2 linked regions of the Homo sapiens genome follow. The protein of the gene in region 1 purifies or fractionates together with the protein of each later gene. This does not show direct contact. Each region holds a gene or a part of one and is shown on either strand. Other genes may lie near its edges.

Evidence for each region. The genes of interacting proteins can lie anywhere in the genome.
Region 2: the proteins of CSRP1 (region 1) and ARL3 fractionate together in Homo sapiens (co-fractionation; one large-scale study listed by BioGRID). This does not show direct contact.

The regions. Positions count from the first base shown.
Region 1 is NC_000001.11:201,490,091-201,493,762, forward strand, and holds part of CSRP1 (cysteine and glycine-rich protein 1), read right to left. Parts: intron 255-3,672; coding exon 86-254; intron 1-85. UniProt on the Homo sapiens protein: Could play a role in neuronal development.
Region 2 is NC_000010.11:102,707,819-102,711,490, forward strand, and holds part of ARL3 (ADP-ribosylation factor-like protein 3), read right to left. Parts: intron 1-3,672. UniProt on the Homo sapiens protein: Small GTP-binding protein which cycles between an inactive GDP-bound and an active GTP-bound form, and the rate of cycling is regulated by guanine nucleotide exchange factors (GEF) and GTPase-activating proteins (GAP).

The sequences.
Region 1 (3,672 bases):
AAAATGGTTGTAAATACACATGAGGCCTAATACAGGGTGGGGGAGAGAGCTCAAGAAAAAGGTTGGGAGGGGATCTTTTACTCACTCCTCGTGCTTGATACCCAGCGACTCCCCCTTGTCAGTGCTGAGGGTGCCTGCGCCCTGCCCGTAGCCATAGCCTTTGGGCCCATACTTCTTGCCGTAGCAGGACTTGCAGTAAATCTCCTCACCATGCACGGCCACAGTGGTACTGTCCAGATTCTTCTTGCAGACCACTGTGGAGGGGAAGGGGAAGCGGACGCATTGAGTTGAAGCTGGGGTGACCTTCTTGCTCATTGCAAGCTTCTTACAGCTGAAGCTCTCTGGCCTCTTTGCATACATAATATCCTGATCTTTCAGGAACTGTCTACAAATGGAGGCAGGCGGGATGGCCAATGGGTGGGAGGACAGAGGGATGGGATCTGCATATCCGACTCTAGAAATGCTGGCCAACACCAATTCCTCTTCCAGGAATCCATATGTGTCTCCTTTGGTCCTCTGCACCCCTAAACTTCCTCAGGCTGCAGTGCAACACAGGGTTCAGAGGCAACAGCCTAGGCTGACCCCAAGCCACAGGACGCCTGTTGAGGTTCCTCACTCTGCCCTCAACAGAGACCATATGTCCCAATGGGGGAGGAGGAAAAAGAAAAGAAGGGCAGTTTTCCTGCCTTCAACAGTGGAATCCAGAAGAGACTATCTGTGCATGTTGGCAGGGAGCCAACGGGGGGAGATGCAGGTGATGTGATACCCCATAAGAAATGTTTAACATTTATTAAGTGCCCAACATGGTGGGCTTTGAAATGGGATGCAGCTCATGCTAATCACAAGAGGATTTGAAGTTTCTAATCTCAGAAATCACTTTACCACAGGAAGAAGTGAGGGTCAGACACAGAAGAACTTCCTGACTCCTGGGGTAAGAGAGAGTGGAACGGAAGGAACTAGGGATTGCAATGGTCTGAGCTGGAAAGGCTGTGGGCCTCATATTTCGTCCTGTTAATCTCAGAGGGGAGCTATGCCCAGCTATCCAGAATAAAACAGTTTGGGCTGGGTGCAGTGGCTCATGCCTGTAGTTCCAGCAGTGGGAAGCCAAGGCTGGAGGATTACTTGAGCCCAGGAGTTTGAGATCAGCCTGGGGAAGATGGCATAACCCTGTCTCTATTTATTTAAAAATAAATAAATAAATAAAACTTTTAAAAATAAAAATAAAGTTAAAGCAGTTCAGAGCCTGGGGTCATGAAGAGTCAGACTGCCCAGAATCAAATCCCAGCTCTCTCCCTTTCCAGCCATTTGCAAGTTTTTTTTGCCTTTCCAGCCTCTGTGTCCTCATTTGTAAATGAACATAATAATGTCTGCCCCAAAAGCTGGTGGTGAGAATCAAATGAGATCTGACATGTGAAGTACTTGGCATAATACCCTGCATACAACAAATGCATAATAAATGTTGGCTACTCTTATTAGTATTATATAAAGTTAGTACCATCGGGAGACAAGGAAGTGGGAGGGACAGGCCCCAGCTTCAAGAGATCATTGCTTCTAACTTTCACATACTCCTCTCAAGAGATTCAACTGCATTCTTTTTCTTTACTTGTCCTGTAATCCTAATTCGGTTTGATCATATTCCTTAAATATTGGAGTTCAGCATCTCAGTTGGACGCATCCTCAAACATGTCCTGAACATAGAAACCGAGGGATACCACTGGAGAAGCCACGCCTTTTACCACCCTCGGAGAAGCTCTCAGCTCCTTTCCTTGCAACTGCCATCCTCTTGCCTTTAAAGGGTCCATCCCTCTGCCAGCTCCTCTCTCACCCTAAGCCCCAGGTTGGAGACTTCAGACTAAATAAGGACCCTCTTGTCCTGCTCTGGAGATCTCCATCTCATTCCAGCACTCTGGGCCATCCAAATATGGAACTTCCCACCATTTCCCCCCGGGACCAGCTCCCAAGAAGGAGGGAGAGGGAACCACAGGCCAAGGGCTCCAACATTCCCTTCTAGGGTGGGAAGTCAGGAATTGGCCTGGAATTGTTTTCCTGTAAGATCCCAATTGAACTGAAAATTCCAAGACCAGAGAGAAGGCAGAAAGCAAAGAGTGCTTGGGGGAACAGAGGTGTATTTTGGCTGATCTCTCCAGTAGGAGACCCAGGAACTCAGCCCAGGGCAGACCTCAGGGCCTGCAAGTTGACATCTTCCAGATGGCTCCCCTGCCGAGGACCTCCCTGCTCCTTTCTGCTTTGCCTTGGCCCTTCTGTTCTCCCAGAGGCCCAATCCTGCCCATCGTGGCCCTCTGCCCCTCTACCTCCATCCAGGTGATATACTGAGAGACTCTGCAACTCACCAAAGTCTTTGTAAGATCCACCAAAGACTCAATCAAGGGGAATTTTAAAGGCAGGCCTGAATAAATTTCTACCATATCATGGTAAGCCAATAAGGGGAAAAGAAAAAAAAAAGACTGGATTTGTTGGAAACACATACTTCCAGATGCCACTTTGGTGGGCCCTTGTGATACTGCTTGGAAATAAAGGGAAAAGGCAGCCCCAGGGGAGAGGTCAGAGCCCCCTTGCCCCACTCAGAAATAGAGAATGATTCTCTGCTTCTGGAAGGAAAACCGAGGCCCACAAAACAGTTCCAGATCACGTGTTGGCCAGATGCAGGGCCAGGCCAGAACCCAGCCCCTGACCTCCAGACCTGGTGGTTTTCTGCCAGCCATTGCTCCCCTCCAGTGGGCCACACATGTGGGGCCAAGAGGGTGAAAAGTGTCAGTAAGTCTCAGCCTGCAGGTGAGGAGACGCTGGTGTCAGAAAGTGTGCAAGGCTTCCGTGAGCTTCCCCTGTGCTCTTGGATTCTAGGGAACAGCCCAGGGCCAACCTGTGGGGCCCTGTTCCATCGGCCACCATCACAGAGTTCTTCTTTCCTCAGGGCTGGCTGCTTAACCCACCTTCCCCAGCAGGGAGCTGGGTACAGCTCAGAGATGGGCACATAACCTCAGGGCAGGTTCCCAGCCACGGAGCTGAGCTTTCCCACCAGCCTCTGAACCACCACCTGCTCATAGGATCTGGCAGCCCCTTTCAAGACCATGGGAGTATACTGTAGGCCCTCTCAGTCCCTGGTCCCAGGCCAAGCCCAGGGTGGAGGTCATTCTCCCCACCTTTGCCTATGACATCATCATGTCTTCCTCCCGCCCATTCAGACACTCAGGAAAGGGCACTGATATGGTTTGGCTGTGTTCCCACCCAAATCTCTCCTTGGGCCAAATGGAGATAATTGAATCATGGGGGCAGCTTCCGCCATACTGTTCTTGTGATAGTGAAAAAGTCTTACAAGATCTGATGGTTATATAAATGGGAGTTCCCCCATACAAGCTCTCTTGCCTGCTGCCATGTAAGACATGCCTTTGCTTCTCCTTTGCCTTCTGCCATGATTGTGAGGCCTCCCCAGCCATGTGGAACTGTGAGTCCATTAAACCTCTTTCCTTTATAAATTACCCAGTCTCAGGTATGTCTTTATTAGCAGCATGAGAGTAGACTAATACAGGCATGTAGGTGGGCAAGCTGAGTAGAATCTGGAGCCAAGAACCCACATGGTCACAACTGCTTTTGGGGACCCAACCAGGCCTGGCCAATGAGGGAGATGGCCCTTACTGCCCTTGGCCCAGACCT
Region 2 (3,672 bases), on another chromosome or scaffold:
AGACAAATTCTATGCCAAAAGATTTGGGGGACAGAGATTGAATAGATTGGAAACAAACAGAAGTCTGGCTTTTTAAAAGGCCAGACTTTTTTTTCCTTTTTCTTTTTTTTGGGGGGACAGGGTCTTCCTCTGTGGCCTAGGCTGGAATGTAGTGGCGTGAACACGGCTAACTGCAGCTTCGACTCCCTGGGCTCAAGCGATCCTCCCACCTCAGCCTCTCCAGTAGCTGGGACTACCGGCTCACACCACCACGCCCCACTAAGTTTTGTATTTTTTGTAGAGATGGGGTTTTGCCATGTTGCCCAGGCTGGTCTTGAACTCCTAAGCTCAAGCGATCCACCCAAAGGCAAGATTTTTTTTTTTGCTGTTTTTATCTCATCTGGTCTTGAATACTTTGACAGCATTCCTTCTTAAAACTATATTTACAAGAAGTCTCCCTGGTTTCTATTAGCTATATTGCAATCACTCATTTATAATATCACCTTTCAGAAAAGTAAAAATTAAAATTCTGAGATCCTTAGGGGACTGGTGACATAAAAAGGCTAAGAGGAAAACCCATTTTACTACTCATCCTGAGTTCCTGATTGTAAGTGAAAAGAAGAGGTCTCATTACCTCTTAAAATAAATTATAAAACATCTGGAATTTATCAAATTAGTACATTAAATGACACAGGCAAAGTTCTTCTCATGCATTTTCTGCTTAGTGCAGAAATTATGAAGGAAGATCTGTTTCCTATTTTAAAAAAAATTTTTTTTGGCCGGGTGTGGTGGCTCACACCTGTAATTCCAGCACTTTGGGAGGCCGAGGTGGGTGGATCACTTGAGGTCAGGAGTTCGAGACCAGCCTGGCCAACATGGCGAAATCCCGTATCTACTAAAAATACAAAATTAGCCGGGTATGGTGGCACATGCCTGTAATCCCAGCTACTTGGGAAGCTGAGGCAGGAGAATTGCTTAAACCCAGGAGGTAGAGGTTGCAGTGAGCCAAGATCATGCCTCTGCACTCCAGCCTGGACAACAAAAGTGAAACTCCATCTCAAAACAAAAACAAAAAATAAAACCATATATTATATATATATATATATATATATTTTTTTTTTTTTTGAGACAAGGTCTCACTCCTAATGCCAGGCTGGAGTACAGTGGTGAAATCATGGTTCACTACAGCTTCAGCCTCCCAGGCTCAGGTGATCCTTCCACCTCAGCCTCCGGAGTAGCTGGGACTATAGATGTGTACAACCGCACCCAGCTAATTTTGTGTATTTTTAGTAGAGACAGGGTTTCACTATGTTGCCCAAGCTAGTCTCAAACTCCTGGCCTTAGGCAATCTGCCCGTGACGGCCTCCCAAAGTGCTGGGATTACAAGAGTGAGCCACTGCACCCGGCCTATAAAATATTTTCAAAGTTTAAAATTAATGTTTTGGGTTTTTCCTCATGTGTCTCTTTTAAAGAAGTTACTAAAAATACTGTTTTTTTTTTCAGGCAGAGACTTGCTCCACACTCATTACATTTGATATTAAAGAATTAAGAGAAAAACAAGGCCAGGCACAGTGGTTCACACCTGTAATACCAGTGCTTTGGGAGGCTGAGGCAGGAGGATAGCTCAAGGCCAGGAATTCAAGATCAGCCTGGGCAACAAACACGAGACACATATCCCTACCAAAAAAAAAAAAAAAAAATTATCCAGGTGTGGTGGTGTGCACCTGCGGTTCCAGCTACTCAGGAGGCTGAGACAGAAGGATGGCTTGAGCCCAAGAGTTTGAGGCTGCAGTGAACTATGGTCGGGCCACTGCATTATGGGCTAGGTGACAGAGCAAGACTCTGTCTCAAAAAAAAAAAAAAAAAAAAAGAGACAAACATAATGTTTATTCACCTTAAAAGGAGAGGAGCAAAGCACAGATAAGAAAGAAAAAGAAATCATTCTAACTATAAGGCTGAGTGCAGTGGCTCATGCCTGTAATCCCAGCACTTCGGGAGGCTGAGGCTGGCGGATCATTTGAGGCCAGGAGTTTGAGACCAACCTGGCCAACATGGTGAAACCCTGCCTCTACTAAAAATACAAAAAATTGGCCAGGCATGGTGGTGGGCACCTATATTCCCAGCTACTTGGGAGGCTGAGGCAGGAGAATCGCTTGAACCTGCGAGGTGGAGGTTGCAGTGAGCCGAGATCACACCAGTGTACTCCAGCCTGGGCCACAGAGCTAGACTGTTTCAAAAAAAAAAAAAATTCTAACTATAGATAAACTTTATTAACCTAATGGTGTAGAATACAGTGCTTCTACATTTCTAATGAGTAATTTTCCTTATTAGGAAATAATAACTTCAGATACTTCACCTTTGAGTGAAATTACAGAGAAATGCAAAGTTCAGCTAATGTTTTCTTCCAGCAAAATGATAAATGGCATTTCAAGCATGGTCTAGGGAAGACAAGTGCAAATATAATACAGCATCATATTAATCCAACTACTGAGGATGGGATCACAGGATTATCAGGGTTTGCTAAATAGGGAAGAGGATATTTATAGAGATCAGGGTTCTGCCTGAAAGGTACAAAGTAAGCTGATTTAAGAGGCTGGATGAAAGAGACCAGAATAAGTCTATTCTGTGCATCTATACATATATGCCCATATTTTATTTTAACTGTCAAATGAAGGGAGACAGCGATTAGAAGTTAAATTTATCATAGGGCTGAGTTTTGCAGTATAAATACAATGACATTAATTTTTAAAGTGCATTTTTTGGCCAAAATATCCATTCACGCAATTATCATTAAACACCCTTAATGTGCCCCAAGTACAACAGTGAGCAAAACGGGCATGATCTCTATGTAGGATTTATATTCCTGTGACATTAAATAAAACAATTTAAGAAACATGAACTTCAGTTAAAAGTATATTGTGTGTTACCAGCATGTGTGTATACAAGTTATCTACACCCTGGTGGGCAGAAGTGGTCTGACTCAACCACAAAACATTTAAACAAACTTTTCTACAGTCAAATCATGAATAGATGTGCTATGGACTACAGACGTTTTATCTGCCTCGAAATCAGCTTAAACTACTGGCAGAGGCATGGTGCCCTGACCTAAAACAATACAAACTAGGTCATTCAAAGAAACCAGAGTGGTGGAGGGAGAAGGAATGCGTTGGTATATGGAAAATATATGTGGTTGTGAGGACCAGCTAAAATTTGAATTCTGAAATTACGAAGCCAACAGTCAAGTACATACGGTCCCCATAACTAGCTTAAATATAACTGACTTCCATTTGTTTTTACGTCTTTCAACTGAACTCCTATCAGCTTAAAGCTCAAAATTGAGAACTTAATCCAAACTGTGTCTTCTTTCTCATCACCCTCTCCTAAATAAATACAAACAATGTTTCCTAAGGAACAAAGTCTGAGCATCTCCTCAGGAAGAGTGGGTTCCCACTTCACCAGAGTCCTAATGAAATGAATGTTATGGGCTTTAGAATTTCACAGACTTGTATTCAGCTTCTGTGTGTGTGTGTGTGTGTGTGTATATATATATATATATGTATGTATATGTATCTGTATATATATATGTATATATATGTATGTGTGTGTGTGTTTTTATATATATATATGTATATACATAACACTGCACACAGTTTCAGCTAGAAAATAGGAACAGGCCGGGCGCGGTGGCTCACG